Linked DNA regions of Homo sapiens. The protein of the gene in region 1 purifies or fractionates together with the protein of each later gene. This does not show direct contact. Each region holds a gene or a part of one and is shown in the gene's direction. Other genes may lie near its edges. The genes, in order: HNRNPUL1, ITM2B, SERPINE2, LYAR, SULF2, CEP135 and RALY.

Region 1 (3,500 bases):
ACCGCCCTGTACACACAGGGGTTGTCATCTAATCAGGAAGGGAATCTGAGTGCAGCTGGGGAAACTTAACTCTTTGACAACCAGTTCCCGTTTCCATCAGCTGCTCAAGTTCCTGGTGAAACCAATGCCACTGTGTCCTGTGAGGCACTAACCTGGCCCGCCCTGCTGTCTGTCCTCCAGTTCAGTTTTCTTTCCACTGGATAAGTGGCTTTCACCTTCACTGTGCATCTGAGCATTTGGAGGAATTATTATAAAGGTCCTTTCGCTCAGACCTCCTAGTCAAGAGTCTAAGTGGTCGAGCCTATGAATCTAAATTTTTACATGCACCCAGAAGCCCAATCAGGTCTGAGAACACTGCACTTCTCAACAGAGCAGAAGATAAGCAGCAATTTATTCATCTATTTCTACAGAAGCTTCTGTTTATAAAGCACTGGCTACATGCTTTAGTAAGAGATAAAAATATACACAATCTCTAATATCACAAGCTCTCGAAAACAACATCTACCCAGAGTAGAGGTAAACATTGTTTAAAAAGTGTTGGGTGGCAGTGGTTCATGAGGCAGCGTCTAGATGAAATGCAAATGTACAGATCATGACGGTCAGCCTTTAGAGAAAGGAGAGCGCCTCATGGGAGGGATGGTCAGGAAAGGCTTTCTTGGAGGCGTGACTGGCTCCTTGAATATTGAGAATATTGAGAAGGGTAAGAGCAACAGTAGGAGAGTCCTAGGCCCATGAAAGGAATTAGGAGCCTATGGGGCACCTGGGCATTGGTTCCTGGGTGGCAGGTGTGGATCAGGGTCAGATCCCTGTATAGCTATTGGAAACAGAAGTCCGGTTCCCAAATTGATAGAATTACCACAGAGGGCGGTAGGAATATATGGTGGTGGTGATTAACCTTTTTGTATTCTAAAAACTAGTTTGAGCCTGGGTAACATGGCGAAACCCTGTCTACGAAAAATATAAAAATCACCCTGGCATGGTGGCATATCCCTGTAGTCCCAGCTGTTCAGGAGGCTGCGGTGGGAGGATGGCTTAAGCGCAGGAGAACAGAAGTTGCAGTGAGCCGAGATCATGCCTCCGTACTCCAGCCTGGGTGACAAAGCGAGACCTTGTCTCAAAAAAAAAAATTAATTTGAAACTGCTGAGGATATGGACCCTATCCCTAGCAAATACACATCCCCACCAAAGACATGTGTTGACAATTTCTGAGGATACCCCTGAAGCCCCATCCTTGGATCCCACCAGATAAAGAACCCCAGTTCCTCTCTGAGGTCATACAGGCCAATTTGCAATACTGCACATCCTCCCTACTCAAAGGGAGAGAGGTTGAGGGGTGTGCTGGTTCCTTTTGAAACTGCCCCCATGATGTGTTCACTGTGTACTCCTGGTCAGCACTTGGGGAAGTTCCCTCTGCCTGCTTCTTTCTTAGGACTTCTAAAACATCAGCCAGGCCGGGCGTGGTGGCTCACGCCTGTAATCCCAGCAGTTTGGGAGGCCGAGGCAGGTGGATCACCTGAGGTCGGGAGTTCGAGACCAGCCTGGCCAACATGGAGAAACCCTATCTCTACTAAAAAATACAAAATTAGTCAGGTGTGGTGGTGCATGCCTGTAATCCCAGCTACTCAGGAAGCTGAGGCAAGAGAATCACTTGAACCCGGGAGGCGGAGGTTGCGGTGAGCCAAGATCGCACCATTGCACTCCAGCCTGGGCAAAAAGAGTGAAACTCCGTCTCAAGAAAACAAAACAAAATAAAAACATCAGCCAACTGTGGGCATTTTCCTTCACAGATAACTGCGACCTCCACTTCAAGGTGGCCCGAGATCGGAGTAGTGGCTATCCGCTCACAATTGAGGGCTTTGCATACCTGTGGTCAGGAGCCCGTGCCAGCTATGGGGTCAGAAGGGGCCGTGTATGCTTCGAGATGAAGGTGAGTAGGAGCAAGAGAAGGGGAAGGGACAGAGAAGTCCATCCATTGTAATATCCTGATACCAGCCACCTTGGTCAGAGCTGCAACTGCAAAAGAGATTGGATTGTGCAATACCATGTCCAAGCAGACAAAACTGTGATGAACTCAAGACAACTACATCATTGCTAAATATCATATCAGAAAAGCAGGCCAACCATGCATTGCTTCATCAAGCAGATATTTCCTTGGTGAGATTTGACCCAGGTATTATGTAGTCAACCAGTGTAGTGATGACATGTTTGTAGAACTGAGAAAAGAAGTTGTTTGGAAGAAAAGTGATCTAGAAAGAATAGACTCAGATGTCACTTATTAAAGGGAGGCCAGAGGGAGAACAGGGCAAAGAACTGCCAGCTTAGGCCAGCCTCTGCTGTCATCTCTCCACAGTTCCATGTCAAGTTATGTTTATGAAAATAATAGATGCTCATGTTTAACAAAAGTTCAGACAGCACAGAAAAGTACAGGATAAAACAGGTTATTCTCGCCAGGTGTGGTGGCTTTTGCCTGTAATCCCAGCACTTTTGGGAGGCCAAGGCAGGTGGATCACAAGGTCAGGAGTTCAATACCAAACTGGCCAAGATGGTGAAACCCTGTCTACTAAAAATACAAAAAAATTAGCCGGGCATGGTGGCGGGTGCCTGCAATCCTAGCTATTCAGGAGGCTGAGGCAGAGAATTGCTTGAACCCAAGAGGCAGAGGTTGCAGTGAGCCGAGATCACGCCACTGCACTCCAGCCTGGGTGACAGAGTGAGACTCTGTCTCAAAAAAAAAAAACAAAAAAACAAAAACAAAAAAAACAAAACAGGTTATTCTCATGTCCTCTCAGTTCCCATCCTACCATCCTACTCCCTGGAGGGAACTTCTGTGTTAACAATTTCTTACCTGTGGTTTGTGTATCCAAACTTACTGATGATAGCTAATAAGTATAGAGCTCTTTGCATGCACAAGATACAGCACCAAGCTCTTTACATGGATTATCTCCATTAATCCTCACAGTACCATCTGGAAACAGGTACTGTTAGCCCCAGTTTTTAGAGGTAGAAGCTGAAACACAGAGGGTTATATTTTATTGACCACGACACCATTGATGTAAGTTGTGCATTATTTTATGTACCTCTCATAGAGAAACACTGCAACAAAATAAACTACGCAGTGTTTTCTTTTTTTGTTTGTTTGTTTTTTTGTTTTTGAGATGGAGTTTCACTCTTGTTGTCCAGGCTGGAGTGCAGTGGCGCGATCTCGGCTCACTGCAACCTCTGCCTCCCGGGTTCAAGCAATTATCCTGCCTCAGCCTCCCCAGTAGCTGGGATTACAGGCATGTGCCACCCTGCCCGGCTAATTTTTGTATTTTTAGTAGAGATGGGGTTTCTCCATGTTGATCAGGCTGGGCTTGAACTCCTGAGCTCAGGTGATCTGCCTGCCTTGGCCTCCCAAAGTGCTGGGATTACAGGCGTGAGCTGCCGCACCCAGCATACGCAGTGCTTTCTCATCACATTTATTGTAAAATGGATCCTGATTTCAGAGATTTTAAAATGTG
Region 2 (3,500 bases), on another chromosome or scaffold:
TGCTGTACTCACCTAGGTATTTGTGGACTGTAGTTAACTAAAGGTAACTGAAACTCGAGAAGCACAACCTCAGATAAGAGGGACTACTGTATTTAATATGTTTACATTTCTGTTTATGTTTACATTTCCCCAATTTTTGTCCCAAGAATTTTTTGTTTTTTCAAATCAGGATTCAGAGATTCAGAAGTTCATGTATCACCTGTGATTTTTATGTCTCTCTGTAAGCTTGCCATTTTGAACACTCGAATATATTACTGAAGTTAGCTTTGCAAACATTTCGTGCCTGATAAATACATCTGATGGATGTTTATAAACCAGTTTGAAAATTTACTTATTTCAAGGAAATAAACTTCCAAAGCAAATAGTAAATAATAATAGTTAACACTTACTGAGCTCTTAGGAATCAAAATGTTGACATTATTTGATTTAAGTTATTCTTAAAAACCGTTCTATGAGACAGTCTTTCTCAACCAGCGTTTCTCATTTGAACCACAGAACACAAAATCATTTAAATGACTGTTTTTCTAATGTTCTAAGGATGGTAGTATTCAAGATACATATGAGAAAATTTAATCTTTACAAACAATGGACAGATAACCTTAGAGGGCATTTGAGCTTATAAGTGGGGAAGTTAAATTGCTTAATTATATAATAAGTATTTGCAGTTAATTTGAATAGGTATTATTACTTATTATAGAAATATACCCTCGATGAGCATTTTATTTACTGGTAGCAATATTTTTTCCTCTCCCATTCCCACTTCCAACTTTATCCAGCCAAATTCTGAATTTGTTGAAATGCAAGTGATTTATACATTCTAAAGCCAATTCATTTTAATGATACAAATTATTCTTAAAAATCCAGTTGCTGCCTGTTTTTGCAAGTATTACTGTAACTACACTGTATCTTTTTCTTCCCAGAAACTTACAGCCTATTTAGATCTTAACCTGGATAAGTGCTATGTGATCCCTCTGAACACTTCCATTGTTATGCCACCCAGAAACCTACTGGAGTTACTTATTAACATCAAGGTATAAGAATGTTGACTGTTTTTGATGAATGATGCCTTCATAGTGTTCTGGAATTCCCTGTTGAGAAATTAGCCCTATAGGAGCCCATTTTATCAGACTGTAGTTAAGAATTTTACAAAGAGGAACTAATACTCATGGTTTTTGTTTTTAATGTTTTATATCTTGAAATTGAAATAAATTTCTCAAATAATGTTTTAAGTTTTCCTAAAGAGCCAGGGAGTAAATATTAGCCAACTACTTAATTCTGGTGCCATAGACAATACGTAAAACAGATGAACATGACTATATTCCAAAAAAAATTCTACTTATAAAAACAAGCCGGGGGCGGTGGCTCATGCCTGTAATCCCAGGACTTTGGGAGACCTAGGTGGGAGGATTGCTTGAGGCCAGGAATTTGAGACCAGCCTGGACAACATAGTGAGAACATAAACAAACAGATGGTGGGTAGTAGTTTGGCAACCTGTTCCATACCATAATGTGTAAGAATTTTGTCTTGTTTCTCTAGTCTACTCAGTGTATGTTCTGAGATAGTCATGTCATGTATTCTTTTCTGAATGTAGGCTGGAACCTATTTGCCTCAGTCCTATCTGATTCATGAGCACATGGTTATTACTGATCGCATTGAAAACATTGATCACCTGGGTTTCTTTATTTATCGACTGTGTCATGACAAGGAAACTTACAAACTGCAACGCAGAGAAACTATTAAAGGTAATACTTTTTAAATATTAAAGTGTTGGGCAGAAAAGTTCATTGCATTAAACTAGATTTAGGTGAAGCCTAGTCATTGTTACCAATATACCTGCCATGAGTGAGGTAATATTGTGTCGTTATATAATATTTCCAGGTTTCTATAGAATTATCTTAATTCCATTTAGTAAGTCCACTCTTTTCAGGTGGAGAGAAAAGGTCAATGTGAAATGTCATTGCCTTGAGATGATGGTACCTCATTTTCCATCTAGTTAGTCACCCTGTCCAACTTCCCATCCTACCACTTTGGTTGAGCCATACTGAAAGGGTTTTTATTATCCAGAGGGTGTCTTGGGACCAGCTCTTCAGCTGTGTTTTCAGGGATCTGGATTCTAAGCAGGCTGTTTGCCTTTTGGATCATATTGGGAATAATCACTGTCAGGGTAGTTGGAAAGGAATTTGGGTGAAGAACTAAGAGCATTGATACAACTAATGTTGTAGCTTTGCCAAATCATTTAACTTTTATTTTCTCACCTGAAATATAAGAATTACAGTATCTCCCCATTTCCTTTTAAGAGCATTGTGAAAATAAAAAGAAAGTACATGTGGCAGCTGTGGAAAGTAAGAAGTGCCATTCAGATACACTGTGGTGTGATTTCTTTGGAATTGTGTCACCCAGTAAAAGTGCTTTCCTGGCTTTTTGCTAGCATTTTAAATAATACTGTTCTCTCATCTCCGGCGGTTGAGTCATCTGAAACCAGCTTGATTTCTTTTTTTTTTTTTTTTCCAACTTTTATTTTAGATTCAGGGGTACATGTGCAGGTTTGTTACAAAGGGTATATTATCTGATGTGAGGTTTGGGGTACAGATGATCCCATCACTCAGGTAGTGAGCAAAGTACCCAATAGGTAGTTTTTCTTTTCTTTTCTTTTTTTTATTATACTTTAAGTTCTGAGTTACATGTGTACAATATGCAGGTTTGTTACATAGGTATACAGGTGCCATGGTGGTTTGCTGCACCCATCAACCTGTCACCAAATTAGGTATTTCTCCTAATGTTATCCCTCCCCTAGGCCCCCACCTCCCGACAGGCCCCAGTGTGTGATGTTCCCCTCTCTGTGTCCATGTGTTCTTATTGTTCACCTCCCACTTATGAGTGAGAAGATGCAGTGTTTGGTTTTCTGATCTTGTGATAGTTTGCTGAGAATGATGGTTTCCAGCTTCATCCACGTCCCTGCAAAGGACATGAACTCATCCTTTTTTATGGCTGCATAAAATTCCATGGTGCATATGTGCCACATTTTCTTAATCCAGTCTATCTTTGATGGACATTTGGGTTGGTTCCAAGTTTGCTATTGTGAGTAGTGCCACAGTAAACGTACATGTGCATGTGTCTTTATAGCAGCATGATTTATAATCCTTTGTGTATATGCCCAGTAATGGGATTGCTGGGTCAAATGGTATTTCTGGTTCTAGATCCTTGAGGAATTGCCACACTCTCTTCCACAATGGTTGAACTAATTTACACTCCCACCAACAGTGTAAAAGCGTTCCCCAATAGGTAGTTTTTCAACCCTTACCTCCTCCCTCCCTCCCTCCCTTCCTTATAGTCCTCAGTATGTATCATTCCCATCTTTATGTCAGTGAGTTCCCAGTGTTTAGCTCCTATTTATAAGTGAGAGCATTGTAAGGTAGGTATTTGGTTTTCTGTTTCTGTGTTAATTCATTTATGATAATGGCCTCCAGCTGTATCCATACTGCTGCAAAGGACATGATTTC
Region 3 (2,871 bases), on another chromosome or scaffold:
GCTTCCTCTAGCAGGGGAGCAAACACATTCCTGTATACTCATTGGTTGAGCAAATATGTAATGCACCCTCTTTCCAGCCAGGCAGTGTGTGTGGGTTAACCCTCAGGAGACAGCAGTGAGTACAGACAGACTGAAGACCTGTAACCACAAAGCTCAGAATCTGTTTCATTAAAGAAAAGCATTTCAGTGAGAGAAATTCCTCTAGGACAGGAGTCAGCAAACTTCTATAAAGAGCCAGGTAGTATGTATTTCAGATTTGTGTGTCATACCATCTCCATTACAGCTTCTTAGCTCTTTCACTGTAGCATGAAAACAGCAATCAACAATACAAGTAAACAGATGTGGCTGTGTTCCAATAAAACTTTATTTATAAAAACAGGATTTGTCCTGGTAGACTTGCCTTGAGGAAAATAGTTTGCTGACCCCTGCTCTCAGGAGGATAAAACATGTTCTGGCTTCTTACTGGCAAAAAAGACCAATCTTCAGATTTGAACATAAAATAAACAACAAGTACTTAAAGGAAAATAGGCAATCAGGTCTATCCAGGATAAACCGAAGAATTCGCCAGCATCTGTTGAATTGCGGCAGGATTGCTGTACAGCCTTCCTTGATAATTAGAACATCCACATCTGCTTCCTCCTCAGTGGTTTACATAATGAAGGAGAAAACAGAACAATCGTAAGTCAGTTTTTTCACCCCTCATTATCCGTAGGAAAATAGATGAATAGATTTGGCCAACTCTGTGAGCCCATAAAGTGAAAATCTTAGCTACACTTGCAGCTGGGTCAAATATCTCTGGTCATTGAAACATACCAGTTATACTCACAATAGATGTGTTATTGCCTTTCTCGAATAAACGTTTTAAAAATTCCTTTAAAGAAGCATTTAAAACAAAGACCCTGAAATAAGAGGGTTGGAAATTTTAAGATGCTTTTTGTCTTTTCTAGGTAATTTTAAGTAACATCTAAAAGTTATTGACCAGTTTTGCTGAGTGTAACTATCAGGACCAGCTACATAGTTTGTGGGGTCCTGTGCCAAATGAAAATATGGAGCCCCTTGTTCAAAATGTATAAGAATTTCAAGATAGCAACAGCAGAGTATTAAACCCAGTGCAGGGCCCCATGTAACCGCCCAGGTCCTCCTGTCTTAGTCCGCCTGGGCTGCCATGACAAAATACCGTTGACTGAGTGGTTTAAACAACAGAACTCACACTTCTGGAGGCTGCGAGTTCAAGATCAAGGTGTTGGTGTTGGCAGGTTTGTTTCTCCTGAGATCTCTGGATCTCCGGAGGTCGCCCCCTCCCTGTGTCCTCACATGGTCTTTTCTCCATGTGACACATCCCTGGTGTCTCTCCCACTTCAAATAAGGGCAACGGTCCTATTAGAATAGAACCCTACTTAACCTTCATTACCTCCTCAAAGGCATTATCTCCAAATACAGTTACGTTAGGGGTTTGGGGCTTCAGCATATGAATTTGGGGGGAGACACATTTCAGTCCATAACACCTGCTATTTAATATTTGTTTTTAATAACCCTGGGTAAAAGGGCTTGCCCCAGCATAACTGCAGCTGTTTCCTTTATAACATCAAGCCCAAGTGTTCAATACTTCATGGGGTTTGAGCAAGAGGACTGAGCTATTGCAACAGGCATGTGGTAGTAATGCCACACACCTACCCTCCCGTGAGGCCCTGGTTCAGGCTTATTAAATGGAAACAAGCCTGGCAGACGAGGAATGGCCAAGACCCATGAGGCTAAAGAAGTTTGCTTTCCAAGTCAGATGCCTACACCTGGTGAGTGGAACAGCAGTATAAGGTAGTAGGTCCCGGATGAGTGGTCTACATTCCAGTGCAGAGGAAACCTAAATAATGTGCCAAAGGAGAAGGCACAGACACAAAAGCTAAGAATTGGACTGGGCCTTTATATACAGAAAAGATTTAGAGAAGCTAAACAGGACCAGGGGTCGGGCGCGGTGGCTCATGCCTGTAATGCCCGCACTTTGGGAGGCTGAGGCAGGTGGATCACTTGAGGTCAGGAGTTCAAAACCAGCGTGACCAACATAGTGAAACCCTGTCTCTAAAAATACAAAAATTAGCCAGGCGTGGTGGTGCATGCCTGTAATCCCAGCTACTCAGGAGGCTGAGGCAGGAGAATCGCTTGAACCCGGGAGGCAAAGGTTGCAGTGAGCCAAGATCGCGCCACTGCACTCCAGCCTGGGTGACAGAGTGAGACTCCATCCCCAAAAAAAAGGACTGGGGGCTTTATCAGCAAAGCAGATGGTGTGAATAAAAAATAGCTAATAACAATAAATATGCATTAGATGTGTTTAGTGGCAAACACTGTTCTAAGAGCTATAATATATCTTATGTCATTTAATTATGTCATTTAATTCTCATCAAAACTCTATGAGGAGTAAGTATGTTTATCAGAGATGGTGCTTGTGTAGAAGACATGAGAGAGTAATGTAAAGGGCCTGGCCCAAGGTAGGCTTAGTAAATGGTGACCATTGAGCCTGTTGTAACATGGCCAGCCTATGGAACAAGCATGAAGTGTGTCTTCAGACACCAGCCTCTGAGGGTCCATGAAGCTAGCTAACTTGCTGGCCTTATGCTTACATGGTCTCATGTAATGTGCACAACACATTTTCCTTTTCTTCCCGTAGCTGCAATTCTCATTGCAAGATCATCGCCTCCCTGGTTTATAGTAGACAGACCTTTTCTGTTTTTCATCCGACATAATCCTACAGGTAAGTGACTCTCCTCTTCCATCATGCCCTCTCTGTTAGAATTTCAAAAGGTATATTGCACTCTTCATTATATCCAACAGTGGTGCCCATAGTCCATTTCCCTAATGTCAATAGTTGCAGACACTTTG
Region 4 (3,500 bases), on another chromosome or scaffold:
AGGGAAGGAAAAGAGGACTCTATTTAGATCCAGCCCCATGAAAAAACTGCTGTCTTTTTACACTTAGGGCTAGATGTTGAAATCTGTCACATCTGAGCCCGGCAGACTGGGTGTCCTCAAAATCTTAATGCAGTTTTAAGCTTTCATAATTTCAGAAGCATAAATGATCCAAACTTGCCAAAACATCATTTAAAATTTAATTAAGGCCGGGCGCGGTGGCTCACGCCTGTAATCCCAGCACTTTGGGAGGCCGAGGCAGGCGGATCACGAGGTCAGGAGATTGAGACCATCCTGGCTAACACGGTGAAACCCCATCTATCTCTACTAAAAAATACAAAAAATAAGCTGGGCGTGGTGGCGGATGCCTGTAATCCCAGCTACTCGGGAGGCTGAGGCAAGAGAATGGCATGAACCCGGGAGGCGGAGCTTGCAGTGAGCCAAGAATGCACCACTGCACTCCAGCCTGGGCGACAAAGCGAGACTCCTTTCTCAAAAAAAAAAAAAAAAAGTTTAATTAAATTTCCTTCATGCTTATCTAGTCTTGTGGAATTTGAACAATACCGTTTTACTTTTTTGTTTTAGGCAATGTTTGCTGTCTTCCATTGGAGTGACTGAATTTCTACATGACGGCTTTTTGTAAGTTTGTAGTATTTACATTTTTGTTTTAGGCAATGTTTGCTGTCTTCCATTAGAGGGACTGAATTTCCACCTGACGGCTTTTTGTAAGTTTGTAGCATTTACGCTTACGAATATTAAGCCTGCACTAAGACCTGGGACACCCTGTCTGCTGTGCAGTTAGGCTGACTTTGAAGCTTCTGATGGTTTTGAGCTTTTCTTTGAAGCCCAAGCAAGTGTTTATGGCATAAATTACAGGTATTTTCGCCTGGGGCTAGGTTGGGTTTGAGGTGTAATCAAGGTGCTGGACTGTCCTCCAGGCTCTGAATAAAGGAGAGGTAAGCTCCTTACAGACATTAGCTCATTAGCCAAGCAAGTGGACACAGAGCTGTTCCCATTTCATGGCAAGTGTAAAAATCCGGAGGAAGGCAGGAAGAGACAGTTCTGACTTCCTGTGCAATCCACCCATTTGGCCTTAAACAAGTAAAGACCAAATGAAAATGATGTGAGAGTTATTTTTTAGCTGGACATGTAACCAGATTCTAATCACCTTCTGAATTGATATTTAATTACACTGTAGTGTGTAGCCGATCTCCAGAGAGATAGAATGTTTGGCACAGTTACTCTTGAGTATCTTTTTGTCAACATCACTGCTTTCACTGCTTCTTTCAGTCAATATATTTTGTTTCCAGCTTCCTTCCTAGGCCTTTAATTCCTGCTGGGACAGGAATCTCTCAATTCACTCTTAAGCCTTGTCGAAACCTTTCTTCCTCCCATCTCCCACTCCATCCAGAAATAGAATTGTCCTCAGCAACAGAGGTTGGCAAGCTCTAAGCCGTATCTAAGTTTCAGAGACTGTTTTTTGTTGTTGTATCTTATTAGAAAAGTGCTTTAACGTTTTTCAGCAGATAATTTGGCATATCACGGCTGCTTTCACCTTGTGCCTGTGATGACAATCTATTTCTTGGTGACTAATAAGTTATTCCTGCTCTTACACCAAAGTGCACCTCCATGCTCTTTGAGAATGTGATGTTGGCTCTTATTCCAGCCTTTGTTCTCCCTTGTCAGGCAGGATAGCTGCTCTTGTTGCCTGACATGTTGATCATCCCTCTGCCTTTTTTTAGAATGGTAAGCTTTGAGGGAGCTGGGTTGTGGGAAACGTGATTCCAGCTCCCAGGAGCTTGACAATATCACACATCTTTACAGTAAGCAGATGAGAAGATGACAGTTGCTGCAGCACATCGAGGGTAGTCATGTTTTCCTTCCTGAGGATTTGGTGCTAGGTTGTAGCTGACCACATGCTGTCCGTTTACTAACATACACTGATAGTGAGCTGAGGAGCGGGGCCTGGGACCGCGGAATCAGGGGTCTGTGGTTTGTATGTAGCGTAGAAGCTGAGCTGATGTCTGATAGTGTCCCACAGGGCAAGAGGCCTCCACAAGAGACCAGCTGGACCTTTGTGAACCCTGGAGATGCAGCCAGGATGTACATTTCCATTCAAGGCTGAATGGACATGAATAACCTTGGTCGTTGCTTGGGTGTGGCCTCACTGGCAGTGATCCAAAACATGCTGGTGGAGGAGCAACGGTGATTTCATGCATGGGAATTCTCTGCAAACCAAGGGTAGATCATTTGTACTGAAAGCTTGTTGGATGAAGTCCTACCCTGAAGTAAATTGCATCGGTTTACTTGACCCTCACCTTTATTTTCCTAATGAGGAAGAAAGCTCTGGGTTAAACAGTTCTCAGTATTTTTGCTGTAAAACTTATAATGTAAAACAACAATGCTGTTTTAAAATCTAGTGATTAAAAATTATGTAAGTATGGAAAATTACTGTGACTTCTCTAACACTTCTAGACGAATTTGTGTTTTCCTGAGCACGGTAGCATTTCTGTGAAATTTTACAATGATGTTTATGTGCGTGTGCAGACATACTTCTTTTTGGGGCAGTGCTCGGGACACCTGGGTTTGTGAACTCCAGTAATTCAGCACCCAGCAGTTGGGACACCTGGACTTGGTTCCGTTTCTTTCTGACTTGTCTGACAAGCTGCCACATGAAGAAGGCCCCTGTCCATTACAGCTGAGGCGCATGTCCTCATTTTAACCTTTGTAGATATATAGTAATATTGATATGAATGCTTTTAGTGCCATAGAAATTGTGCCCATAGAATTGCCTCTTCTTCACTTTCTAAACTTCACTCAGTTTTCCTCTTGCTGTGTTCTTAGTATATTTGAGGACCTGAAATAGTTTGTAGTGTACACCTAAATTGCAATGCCTTCTATAAGTTTCATATACAGAGAGAGAGTTTAAGGTATTATGGAAAGTAAGATTTAACACCCTCAAAGCTCTTCATCTTGAGAGCCAATCTGCCAGGTTTAAATCCTGGTTCTGTTAACCGTGTATCCTTGGGCAAGTTATGTAATCTCTGTGTCTCAGTTACCTCATATAAATTTTGAACAATAATAGTCCTTCCCTCATAGGGTTACTGCGGGGATTGAATAAGTGAATAAATGTAAAGCCTCTAGAATAGTGCCTGGCACGTGGTAAGGACACAATAAATGTTAGCCATTCTCATTGTTAATGTTAGTTTTACTTATATGAATGGTGGAATTTTATGTAGATTGCTAATCAACTTTGACTCTGTTATTTTCATGTGAAATTATGGTTGAAAAGTTAGGGGCATGAGCCATTTATTGAAATGAGAAGTTTCAGTTTATAATTATAATTGTCTTTTTTTCCTTAGGACAAGACTTAAAACCTGTCTTGGATAGAGAATATTTAGCCATTTACCTAAAAATGGTATTTTTTACATGCAATGCATGTGGTGAATCAGTGAAGAAAATACAAGTGGAAAAGCATGTGTCTGTTTGCAGAAACTGTGAAT
Region 5 (3,500 bases), on another chromosome or scaffold:
GTTGGGTTGGAGCGGGGAGCAGGCAGTGGGGAAGGAGAATTCCAGGCAGAGAGAGCTAAGTGGACAGGAGGCTGCTCGCCAGCGCACACAGCTCAGGGCTTCACGCAGAACTCAGAGCCCTGGCTTTTCTTGAAAAATCAGACCTGGGCTTCTGGGCCTGTGCTCCCCTCTGGCGACAGTCAGATGGGTATAGCCGGTCACAGTGCCCACTTTAGCCTCCCCAGGTCCCCCAGGCGCTTCTGGGCTGGCCTCATTCAGGGCCATGCCTGCTGGCCCATCAGTCTACTTCTGCACTAAGGAATCCAGGTTGCTGGAAGGGCCTGCATGCATTGAAGGGGATGGGAGGGTGGCAGGGCGCTGTGAATGCAATTAGATTCAGCCTCCAGGTGAGAACAGATGGGCGGGACAGGGGCAAGATGAGCAGGTGAAAGGCACCAGGGCCTTCAACGGCAGCGGGCGGGGGCAGACGGTGCAGCAGAGGGTTGGGGGGGATGGTGGCACCAGACTCCACACTTTTCCTTACAGCTCTTGCACCTCCCAGTTGTGTGACCCAGGACACATCTCTCTACCTCCGTGTGCCTCATCTTGAATCGGCACAGTAATGACAGCACCTGCCTCGTAGGGTAGCGTGAGGTGTAGTAAGCAAGTTAATATATTAACACACAGTGCTTGGCACATGCTAAGTGCTGGAGAGACACAGGGAACAGATCTGACCCATGGCCTGGAAAGGTCACTTTGGCACAGAATAGGCCCTAAAGAGTCACTGGGTCAATGGGCTGGAGCAGCTGTGGACAGAAGGGAAGAGAATCCAGTTTACAGGTGGTTGCAGAATCCCGTGAGGGGATCCAGGAGGCTGGAACTGGGGAAGAGCAGAAGGATCAACACGAGAGATTTGGACAGTGATTCTATCTACATTCAGCGTCTGACCACAGGCCTGGAGTTGAGTGCACACGTGGAGCCTCTGCACACACTGCACTGATTGAGTCTGGGAAGGTGGTCAGGGGAGACCTCCTTGCGCTGGAGCAGACGGGAAGGAAGAGAAGCCTCCAGCAGCAGGAAGGGCTGGAGAAAAGGCATTCTAGGCAGAAGGAACAGTGAGCGCCAAGTCCCTGGGGCAGCAGCCCACAGGGGATACTGGAGAGAGGGCTGAGGGAGAGGAGGACCGATGGGTAGGCCAGGGCCAGATTGCAGAGGATGTTCAAAGACTAGTATCAGGAGCTTGGGTCTTGTCTTAAAGACAGTGGGAGCCATTGAAGGGTTTTAAGTAGGAGAGTAATATGATCCAACTTGCCCTTTAAAAAGATTCCTCTAGCTGCCATGTGGGTGGATTTTAGGAGCAGACAGAAGCAGGTAACCGTGAGAGTGGTGGCTGTCGGAGGCATCTCGCTGGGGGATGATGGTAGCTCTGCCCAAGGTTCAAGCAGTGGCAGTGGAGAGAAGCGGCATTGGAGATAGCAGAGGTGGGGCTCGGTAACAGCTGGATGCAAGCAGGGAGAGGGATGTCTCCAGGGTGGATGGGGGTGGCAGGGGAGAGGCGGGTTTAGGGGAGCAGATGAGCAGCTGGCCGAGGCCCTGGCATGTCTTTCAGAAGTGGCAGTGTGTGGAGGACGCCACGGGGAAGCTGAAGCTGCATAAGTGCAAGGGCCCCATGCGGCTGGGCGGCAGCAGAGCCCTCTCCAACCTCGTGCCCAAGTACTACGGGCAGGGCAGCGAGGCCTGCACCTGTGACAGCGGGGACTACAAGCTCAGCCTGGCCGGACGCCGGAAAAAACTCTTCAAGAAGAGTAAGTGTCACAACCTGGCTGAGTGGGACAGGAGGAGAGAGACCATGCCTGGGGGGCCCCATTCATTCACTCCGACAGTTCCACAGAGACTGTCACTTTGCCAGGTGGTGATCTAGGGGCTGGGGACACAGCCACATCTCCTCACGAGCCACCCATTCTAGTGGGGAGCAGTAGTAATAAACAGATAAGGCCAGGCGCAATGGCTCACGCCTGTAATCCCAGTACTTTGGGAGTCCGAGGCAGGCAGATCACCTGAGGTCAGGAGCTCCAGACCAGCCTGGCCAACATGGTAAAACCCCGTCTAAAAATACAACAATTAGCCAGATGTGGTGGCTCACGCTTGTAATCCCAGCTACTTGGGAGGCTGAGGCATGAGAATCGCTTGAACCCAGGAGGCAGAGGCTGCAGTGACCCGAGATTGTGCCACTGCACTCCAGCCTGGGCAACAGAGCGAGATCCATCTCAAAAAAAAGGAAGAAACACACATACAAGGTTCTGTATTGATTGGCTGGTGAAAATGCTAGGACCAGAGGTTCACAGGAACCCAGCTCTGTGCTTCCCCTAGGAGCCATGTTTCAGCGTTCAATTAGTCAGTGTTTGTGGTGAGTTTATAGAACTACCCTGGGCTGGGCGCGGTGGCTCACACCTGTAATCCCAGCACTTTGAGAGGCCGAGGTGGACAGATCACTTGAGGTCAGGAGTTCAAGACCAGCCTGGCCAACATGGTGAAACCCCATCTCTACTAAAAATACAAAAAATTAGTTGGGCGTGTGGTGTGGCAGCAGAGTCGCTTGAACCCGGGAGCAGAGGTTGCAGATAGCTGAGATCACGCCATTGTGCTCCAGCCTGGGCGACAGAGTGAGACTCGGTCTCAAAAAAAATAAAAAATAAACTACCCTGAAGAACAAAAATAGACTATAGTTGAGTGGGGAAAAGCCTCACTCAGCTGAAGAAGTGTCTACACCTTCACACCTCATTCTCGGCAAGGGCCGAGGAGAGGACAGTCAGACAGAAGCCAGGGAGCAGGCGAAGTGGAGAGAGGGACTCTTCTAGACCCAGCCAGAAGGCTCAGCCGCCACCCTGGGCCATCGCTTCACCATTCTGAGGCTCAGCTCCCACCATCAAACAGGAAGAATGGTCCCTGCATGACTTTAAAACAAGAATGAGCCTGTGCCCTGAAAATGTGTGGAGGCGTCGGGGTCCGCCGGCTAGAAGTGTGCCCTCCAAGGCTGGGCAGCTTCCCACGTAGCCCATTTCTCTGGCCTAAGGACAGCCAAAGCCTAATGAGAGATTTTAGGTGTTGTTTTTAAAAAAAATTATGGTGAAATTCCCATAAAATTTATCATCTTAACCATTTTTAAGTATCCAGTAGTGTCAACTATATTCCCACTAGTACGCAACCTATCTGCTAAATGAACTCTTCATCTTGCAAAACTACAACTGTCCCCATTCAACGTTATCTCCCCATTCTCCCACCCCGCTCCCACCCCCACCCCGTTCTCCCACCCCGCTCTCCCACCCTGCTGTCACCCCATTCTCCCACCCGTTCTCAGCAACCACTCTTCTTCTCTATGAGCTTGACTGCTTTAGGGGCCTCATGTAAGTGGAATTGTACAGTATTTGTCCTTCTGTGGCTGGCTTATTTCTCTTCGCATAATGTTCTCCGGGTTCATCCACATGGTAGCCTGTGTTGGAATCTCCTTCCTGATCGGGCAC
Region 6 (3,500 bases), on another chromosome or scaffold:
CATTCTTTCTCTGTTTAAAAGTAAGACTTGAGGCCAGGTACGATAGCTTACACCCGTAATCCCAACACTTTGGGAAGTCGAGTCAGGCAGATTGCTTGAGCTCAGGAGTTTGAAACCAGCCTGGATAGCATGGCAAAACCCCGTCTCTACAAAAAATACAAAGAATTAGTCAGGCATGTGGCATGTGCCTATAGTCCCAGCTACTCGGGAGGCTGAGGCAGGGAAGGTTCACTTGAGCCCAGGATGTCGAGGCCGCAGTAAGCAGAGATTGTGCCACTGCACTCCAGCTTGGGCAACAGAGTGAGACCTTGTCTCAAAAAAAAAAAGTAAGACTTGAATGAAGGATTGAACAGTTCAGTGCTTCCGAAGTAGAATATTTTTCCCGATAAAAATCTCAAGGTGTTTAAATCTTAATTAAACAAGTCTATTTAGCTAGAATTTACCTTTCCCAGATGGAGGCATTACTTTAAATAACCTAGTGTTTGTTTTCAAACATGGATGTTTTCAATTTTCACTCATCTAGTAGTATCTTTATTTTCAGGTACTGAGAAACTATAATACTGGCTTGATTATGTAGTCAGAGTAAGCATATTCAACCAGAAGGGTCTCATTGCCCTTGTGGTTTTATCTTAATGACCGTCTCTTGATAAGGTACCATGACTAAAAATTATTTGAGGATTTGAGTAGATCCTATAGCCAAATAAGCCCATAGTAAAAATAGCAAAGATTATTTTGAAAATAAAGTGTCTTTCTTATACTTAAAGAAACAGTTCATAATCTTTAACCCATACCCAAAATGAAACAAGTGATAGGTGAATAGTTCCACAGAGCTATATTGTCAGATAAATAATTTTTTCAGAGTAAGTTTAAAATTGTACTGAAGTAATCTTACTTTGTTTTTCACGTAGGTTGTGGTGGAATTAGAAAATGTAAAGTCAGAGTCAGACCTACTGAAAAAACAACTTTCAAATGAGAGACATACAGTTAAAAACCTCGAATCATTGTTGGCTACAAACAGAGATAAAGAATTTCATTCTCACTTAACCTCCCACGAGAAGGATACAGAAATCCAGCTACTTAAGGAGAAGTTAACCCTTTCTGAAAGCAAATTGTAAGTGTCTTAAGTCAACTTATGCAAAGACAATTGCTTGTGAAGGATAGTTTTTTAATTTTTTTGAAGTGGAGGAAAGGTTAAGAGTATGAAAGATAGGCCAGGTGCAGTGGCTCACACCTGTAATCCCAGCACTTTGGGAGGCCAAGGCGGGTAGATTGCCTGAGCTCAGGAGTTTGAGACTAGCCTGGGCAAGATGGCGAAACCCCGTCTATACTAAAAATACAAAAAAAAAAAGCCAGGCGTGGTGGCACACACCTATAGTCCCAGCTACTCAGGAGGCTGAAGCGTGAGAATCACTTGAACCCAGGAGGTGGAGGTTGCAGTGAGCCGAGATTGCACCACTGCACTCCATCCTGGGCGACAGAGCGAGACGCTGTCCCAAAACCAAAATATTTGGCTTATACATCTGCTGCTTTTGGAAATTTAGGAGACTGACTCGGGAGAAACATCGTGTTGGGAGGTGCAGACCTGTATATCTTCACTACAGAGGTTGTACCGTGGGAGTAATGAGAAGAGAAAACGTTAGGAAAGCGCCTACAGTTGAGGAATGGACAGAGGAGTCAGTGAAGGAGAAAGTGTTCTCGGGAGAAGAAGAGGTGGCTGTGTCTTATGCTGTAGATTAGGAAAAAGGACTCTAAAAAGGCTATGAGATTTGACCCACATACATGTATTGATTACTTTGGGAGAGACTGATTATGTCATATTTTTAGAATAGAAGGATTTAGACATATTTGTAGGAAGAGGGAAAGAAACCCAGAGTAGAGTACACATGGAAGAATGAGCTTTTGAAAGGTATTAAAAATATTAATATTTCTCTTTCCAAGGCAAGAGTCAAGAAAGAGCCAATGAAGACACTTTACATCTTGGTGTTACCATTTATGTCTCGTTCAAATTTGTATCCCTAGCATTGCTTTAGTGCTTAGCACATAATAGATGTTCAGTACATGTTTCATAAATAAACTAAATGAATGAAAAAGAAAATGTGATAAAAGCTCTAGAAGTTTAGAGAATTCTTGTTGAAAGGTCTTGATCTTCTCTTTATTAATTTAAAAAACCCACAGCACCTGACTCTACAAAACGGAACGTTTATTTCTTGATTTTTTAATTTGTTTTTAAGAACTAGTCAAAGCCGGGAAAACACCATGCTTCGAGCTAAAGTGGCACAGTTACAAACAGATTATGATGCTCTGAAAAGGCAGATCTCAACTGAAAGATACGAACGGTAAGACAAATTTTTTTTACATTTGACAATGTTTTTATGTGTTCTCTATTGTACTTCAGAAAGTATTTAATATGGCTTTACAAATAACAAACTTTTTAAAAAGCTAATACATAAAGTACATTTCTTTGGTAATTCTTCCTTTTAAAAAAGGCAACAAGTGTTGGGGAAGATAATAGCTCTACAGTAACTAAAATAGCAAGTATTACATAGCGGATGCTATATAAATATTTATTGAATAAAATTGTTTAATAATCTGAAAAATAAGGTAAAATAGGAAGTATTGGATAAATATTTCCTATAGCATTCCGCAGGACAAAATTAGAATCCAAAAGTATTTCAAAGAGTATAGAGAAGCAACAACAATCCCTATAAGAGCTCCAAAATGTATGGTTCAAGTAGGATGTTCCACATACAAATCATAATAAAGGTAATGATTTGAAGATAGTAACAGCAGTTAACAAATGTGGACCAGACACTATATAAGTGTCTGATGAATCCCACCAACAATCTATTATTATGCCTACCTTATAGGAAACTGAGATCACATAAATAGTAAGTGGTAGGAAACCAAACAGATTTTAATTCTAAAACCTGTACCCTTAACCTCTTCAATGTATTCCCTACAGCTTGGTAATTTTCATATTCACTCATATTTTGGTTCATTTGCTTTACGTTGAAAAATTTAATCCCCAGGTGTTACTAACCCGGATTGAGACCTGCTTTAAATCGAAGTCTAACTTGAAAATCAGTTGCCAAGTTACTTGTCTTCCATTACTCTTTCCTACTATATTAATACCATAGACATCTGCATTCCTGAGATTTCATTCTCAATTAGTGGCCAAATTGCTTGTTAGATCAGTTTTTGAGTTATTCTTACCTATTTACGTCAAAACTTTGTAGTGATGTGCTATTTGAAGTATAGTGACAATTTGCTATGAAATCAATATTTACGATTTCATAAAGGCCTGGCTTGGTGGCTCATGCCTGCAATCCCAGCACTTTGGGAGGCCAAGGCAGGTGGATTTACTTGAGCCCACGAGTTTGAAATCAGCGTGAGCAACATGGCAAAACACCATCTCTACAAAAAAATTTTTGAAAATTAGCTGGGGCATGGTGATGGGTGCCTGTAGTCCCAGCTACTCAGGAAGCCGAAGTGGGAGGATT
Region 7 (3,500 bases), on another chromosome or scaffold:
TCTCTCACTTCTCCCCTCTCTTCGAACGAATAAGTAGAAGCAGGTATCTGGCCAAGTATTAATGTTGGTCATCTTTTGTTTCCACAGCCTTGCCTTATTTCCTCAGTGTTAGTGTCTTCTGTCATTTCATAATGGCTTTCATGGTAATCAATGTCCTGTACCTCCTGGGAGGAAGGAAGGAAAGATGGGATATTGTCCCTGGGCTCTAGTCTCCATCTCCAGAAGAGCCATTTAAGACATCCACTGCCCCCTGTTCTCTATTCTGGGGTTGGGGTAGGGGGTTGTGGCTGAATACTTGGGTTTCTTAGAGGGTACATACTTGAGTTTCCTAGGGAGTGCTCTACTAACTAAAGTGCAAATCTGGCTATCTTCCCAACACACCAATGAGTTTGACTGGGGAAAATAGCAGTCAGTGGGCTTTTGTTGCTTGCCAAACCCATGTTAATTGTAATTATCTAATATTCTGTGGGATCTCTGTCTTCCTGTCTGTGAAACAAGGGAATTGGACTAGATAATCTTGAGTGATATTTCTACCTTTTTACAGTTTTGTGGAAGTGGCTTGAGAATTTATCTCTGGAAGGAGAAAGGGCTTTGCTAAAGTATTGAGAGTATCTCAGAGGGTTAAATTCTGGGTTCACAAAAGATACCTTTCAGTATATAAACAGATGGATATTGCTTTTTAGAGTGGACAGATTGCTGAAAAATTGCTTGTGAGATGAATTTATCAAATTGTATGCTGAGTTCCATTATAAACTTGGAGCTGTAGCCTCATGGGACAAACTTGGAGTCCAAGACTATAAAAAAATTACATTAAAATATGTAGCAAACTGTTTAAAATCACATAATAAAGGAAAAATAAAAAACATTTTAAGATTTTCACACAATGGTAATAATGGAAAAACACTAGACCAGAAACTTGCATTTCCTAAGAGCTTTAGCTTATGGAGTAGATGCCTCTACTGAGGTTACCTGGCCCTTGAAGTGCCATCTGTAGAGACTGAATAGCTCTGTTATTTGTCAAGGTAAGACTCATTGCTTTATTCCAAGTAAATATTCTCTTTTAGAATGCCAGGTTTGGAAGCTTAATGTTATTGGCCAGATTTTCTTCATTCCAGAGGCATTTATCTGGTATTTAGCTGTCTCCTGTTTATTTTATTAAGGATTTTAATAAGCTTAGTTAACGGTACTGCTTACATGGTGTCTCTTGATCTATTTGTCTAGTTTCCTTTGAAATTCTTTGTGTTAGTGAAAGCAAGCCCAGCAGTAGATTTAAAAGGGTCATTTCCATAACTTCATTTATCTAGATTTGGGTTTTTTTGGTAAGAGATATGACCACACTATACTGAGAAATCGAATGTTGTTTCCTTTTTTTTTGAGACGGAGTCTCGCTCTGTTGCTCAGGCTGGAGTGCAGTGGCATGATCTCCGCTCACTGCAAGCTCTGCCTCCCGGGTTCATGCCATTCTCCTGCCTCAGCCTCCTGAGTAGCTGGGACTGCAGGTGCCCACCACCACGCCCGGCTAATTTTTTTGTATTTTTAGTAGAGACGGGGTTTCACAGTGTTCGCCAGGATGGTCTCGATCTCCTGACCTGGTGATCTGCCCACCTCGGCCTCTCAAAGTGCTGGGATTACAGGCGTGAGCAGCCGCGCCTGACCACGTCGTTTCCTTTTTACCTGAAGCATTAATTTAAGGCTTTGGAATTTTGTTTTTGCGGATACCTGTAAGGTGGTACTGAGGAATGGTGCTGCTGCCAAAGTAATAATGAGGGCTGTGCGTGAATCAGTTGAGCACAAGAATAACTTCTCTTCAGACTTTAAAGATTCACCCTAATTGATTCTTACACCAATTAAAATCAACCCTTACTAAAATTAGGGTTCAGAGGAAGTTACTTAGTTGCCGTGGCATGATTATTTATGCTTGGGAGTCCCAACAGCCTTCCATCCCTAATCTCAACCATTCGTTCCAGGAATTTGGAGTACCTCCTATATGTTCTTCTTATGGAAAACATAAAAACCAACAAGACATAATTCCTGTCCACAAATTACTTTCAGTCTTGAGAGGAAGACAGATAAGTAAAGCAAATCCAGCCTGCCGCCCTGGCTCATATATTTGGATTGAGGGTTCAAACGGAAAATAACATAATTGGTGGCTGTATCAGTAGACAAGGAGACCAGTTTGATAATCTGACTTCCAGTGTGTAGACTTTATTTTTTTGGCATTCCCTTCTCTCCCTTCTGTTTTTTACAGATATTTATCCTCTGTTGCTAAGGTGTCCAACACCCAGTGTGTAAAGTCAAGAATATTAGAGTAGGGGACAACATTTCCTTTCAGGTTTAGGTGTCCAGATATCTGCATCTGGACACCCACACAGTTCTCTGGCTGGCTTCAGGAAGATTTGGTATTGTCTCGCTTCTTATGTAGAAATGAAGAAAATTAAGTTTCATGTTGAATTATTTTAAGTTTTATTATGCTCTATTTTGAAATAAAATAGCTCTATTTTGTATGCAGGTGGAATTATCTGAGGTGTGGTTTCTGGCATTTGATCAGTCTGTGATTTGATAATTGTGTTTATATTGTAGTTCGTGAAGCCCATTGCCACTGCCAGCCGCCTTTGAACACTTTGCAGCAAGGAGCCCTAGTAAATGGAAATGGTGGGCACATTGAGGCTCTCCTGGTTTTGAAGGGCTCTTCCCTCTTTCCTACCCTTCAGAGAGAAATATTACTTGGGATGCTGTGTTGTGCTCCCGATTTCTTCCAACAATTTAGCATTGCCTGTGGGGTCTGGAATAATAAGGCCATGTAAACTGGAGATGTCATCTTCTCTCTCTTTGAAGTTCCATTTTCTCATCTGTGAAGTGGGGTTAACACTCCATATCTTGCCTTCCTCACAATGGTATTGTGAGGAGCAAATTAGAACGTTGTAAAATCACATGAGACAATTTATATGTGAAGAATCCATCAGTCATTTGTCAGTGGTAATAGGTAAGTGGCAGAATTTTCCTTAAGAGGGGAGATCGATCTCTTTGTAGGGAGCAGGGAGAGTGATCTCAGCTGGTCTCTGGGATTGGGAAAAAGTGTGATGAAAGCATCTGGACAGGGGCAATGATGGAGCAAAAGACTGGAGGTGAACTGTTCAGCGGGAACAGTGAGTAAGTGTTCTCTAACCTCATACTGTAAGTCCTAGGTTAGGCATATGTTTACCTTTGGTAAATATGCCAAACAGTTTTTTTTTTTTTTTTTTTTTTTGAGACGGAGTCTCGCTCTGTCGCCCAGGCTGGAGTGCAGTGGCGGGATCTCGGCTCACTGCAAGCTCCGCCTCCCGGGTTCACGCCATTCTCCTGCCTCAGCCTCCCAAGTAGCTGGGACTACAGGCGCCCGCCACTACGCCTGGCTAATTTTTTGTATTTTTAGTAGAGACAGGGTTTCACCGTTTTAGCCGGGATGGTCTCGATCTCCTGACCTCGTGATCCGCCCGCCTCCGCCTCCCAAAGTGCTGGGA

What was found.
Region 2: the proteins of HNRNPUL1 (region 1) and ITM2B purify together in Homo sapiens (co-immunoprecipitation; one large-scale study listed by IntAct). This does not show direct contact.
Region 3: the proteins of HNRNPUL1 (region 1) and SERPINE2 fractionate together in Homo sapiens (co-fractionation; one large-scale study listed by BioGRID). This does not show direct contact.
Region 4: the proteins of HNRNPUL1 (region 1) and LYAR purify together in Homo sapiens (co-immunoprecipitation; one large-scale study listed by IntAct). This does not show direct contact.
Region 5: the proteins of HNRNPUL1 (region 1) and SULF2 purify together in Homo sapiens (co-immunoprecipitation; one large-scale study listed by IntAct). This does not show direct contact.
Region 6: the proteins of HNRNPUL1 (region 1) and CEP135 purify together in Homo sapiens (co-immunoprecipitation; one large-scale study listed by IntAct). This does not show direct contact.
Region 7: the proteins of HNRNPUL1 (region 1) and RALY fractionate together in Homo sapiens (co-fractionation; one large-scale study listed by BioGRID). This does not show direct contact.

Annotation. Positions count from the first base shown.
Region 1 is NC_000019.10:41,274,372-41,277,871, forward strand, and holds part of HNRNPUL1 (heterogeneous nuclear ribonucleoprotein U-like protein 1), read left to right. Parts: intron 1-1,787; coding exon 1,788-1,927; intron 1,928-3,500.
Region 2 is NC_000013.11:48,257,206-48,260,705, forward strand, and holds part of ITM2B (integral membrane protein 2B), read left to right. Parts: intron 1-920; coding exon 921-1,031; intron 1,032-1,591; coding exon 1,592-1,742; intron 1,743-3,500. UniProt on the Homo sapiens protein: Plays a regulatory role in the processing of the amyloid-beta A4 precursor protein (APP) and acts as an inhibitor of the amyloid-beta peptide aggregation and fibrils deposition. Plays a role in the induction of neurite outgrowth.
Region 3 is NC_000002.12:223,977,416-223,980,286, reverse strand, and holds part of SERPINE2 (glia-derived nexin isoform b precursor), read left to right. Parts: intron 1-2,659; coding exon 2,660-2,743; intron 2,744-2,871. UniProt on the Homo sapiens protein: Serine protease inhibitor with activity toward thrombin, trypsin, and urokinase. Promotes neurite extension by inhibiting thrombin. Binds heparin.
Region 4 is NC_000004.12:4,283,655-4,287,154, reverse strand, and holds part of LYAR (cell growth-regulating nucleolar protein), read left to right. Parts: intron 1-582; 5' UTR 583-636; intron 637-3,359; 5' UTR 3,360-3,412; coding exon 3,413-3,500. UniProt on the Homo sapiens protein: Plays a role in the maintenance of the appropriate processing of 47S/45S pre-rRNA to 32S/30S pre-rRNAs and their subsequent processing to produce 18S and 28S rRNAs. Also acts at the level of transcription regulation.
Region 5 is NC_000020.11:47,670,482-47,673,981, reverse strand, and holds part of SULF2 (extracellular sulfatase Sulf-2 isoform a precursor), read left to right. Parts: intron 1-1,588; coding exon 1,589-1,784; intron 1,785-3,500. UniProt on the Homo sapiens protein: Exhibits arylsulfatase activity and highly specific endoglucosamine-6-sulfatase activity. It can remove sulfate from the C-6 position of glucosamine within specific subregions of intact heparin.
Region 6 is NC_000004.12:56,018,445-56,021,944, forward strand, and holds part of CEP135 (centrosomal protein of 135 kDa), read left to right. Parts: intron 1-908; coding exon 909-1,111; intron 1,112-2,231; coding exon 2,232-2,336; intron 2,337-3,500. UniProt on the Homo sapiens protein: Centrosomal microtubule-binding protein involved in centriole biogenesis. Acts as a scaffolding protein during early centriole biogenesis.
Region 7 is NC_000020.11:34,000,411-34,003,910, forward strand, and holds part of RALY (RNA-binding protein Raly), read left to right. Parts: intron 1-3,500. UniProt on the Homo sapiens protein: RNA-binding protein that acts as a transcriptional cofactor for cholesterol biosynthetic genes in the liver. Binds the lipid-responsive non-coding RNA LeXis and is required for LeXis-mediated effect on cholesterogenesis.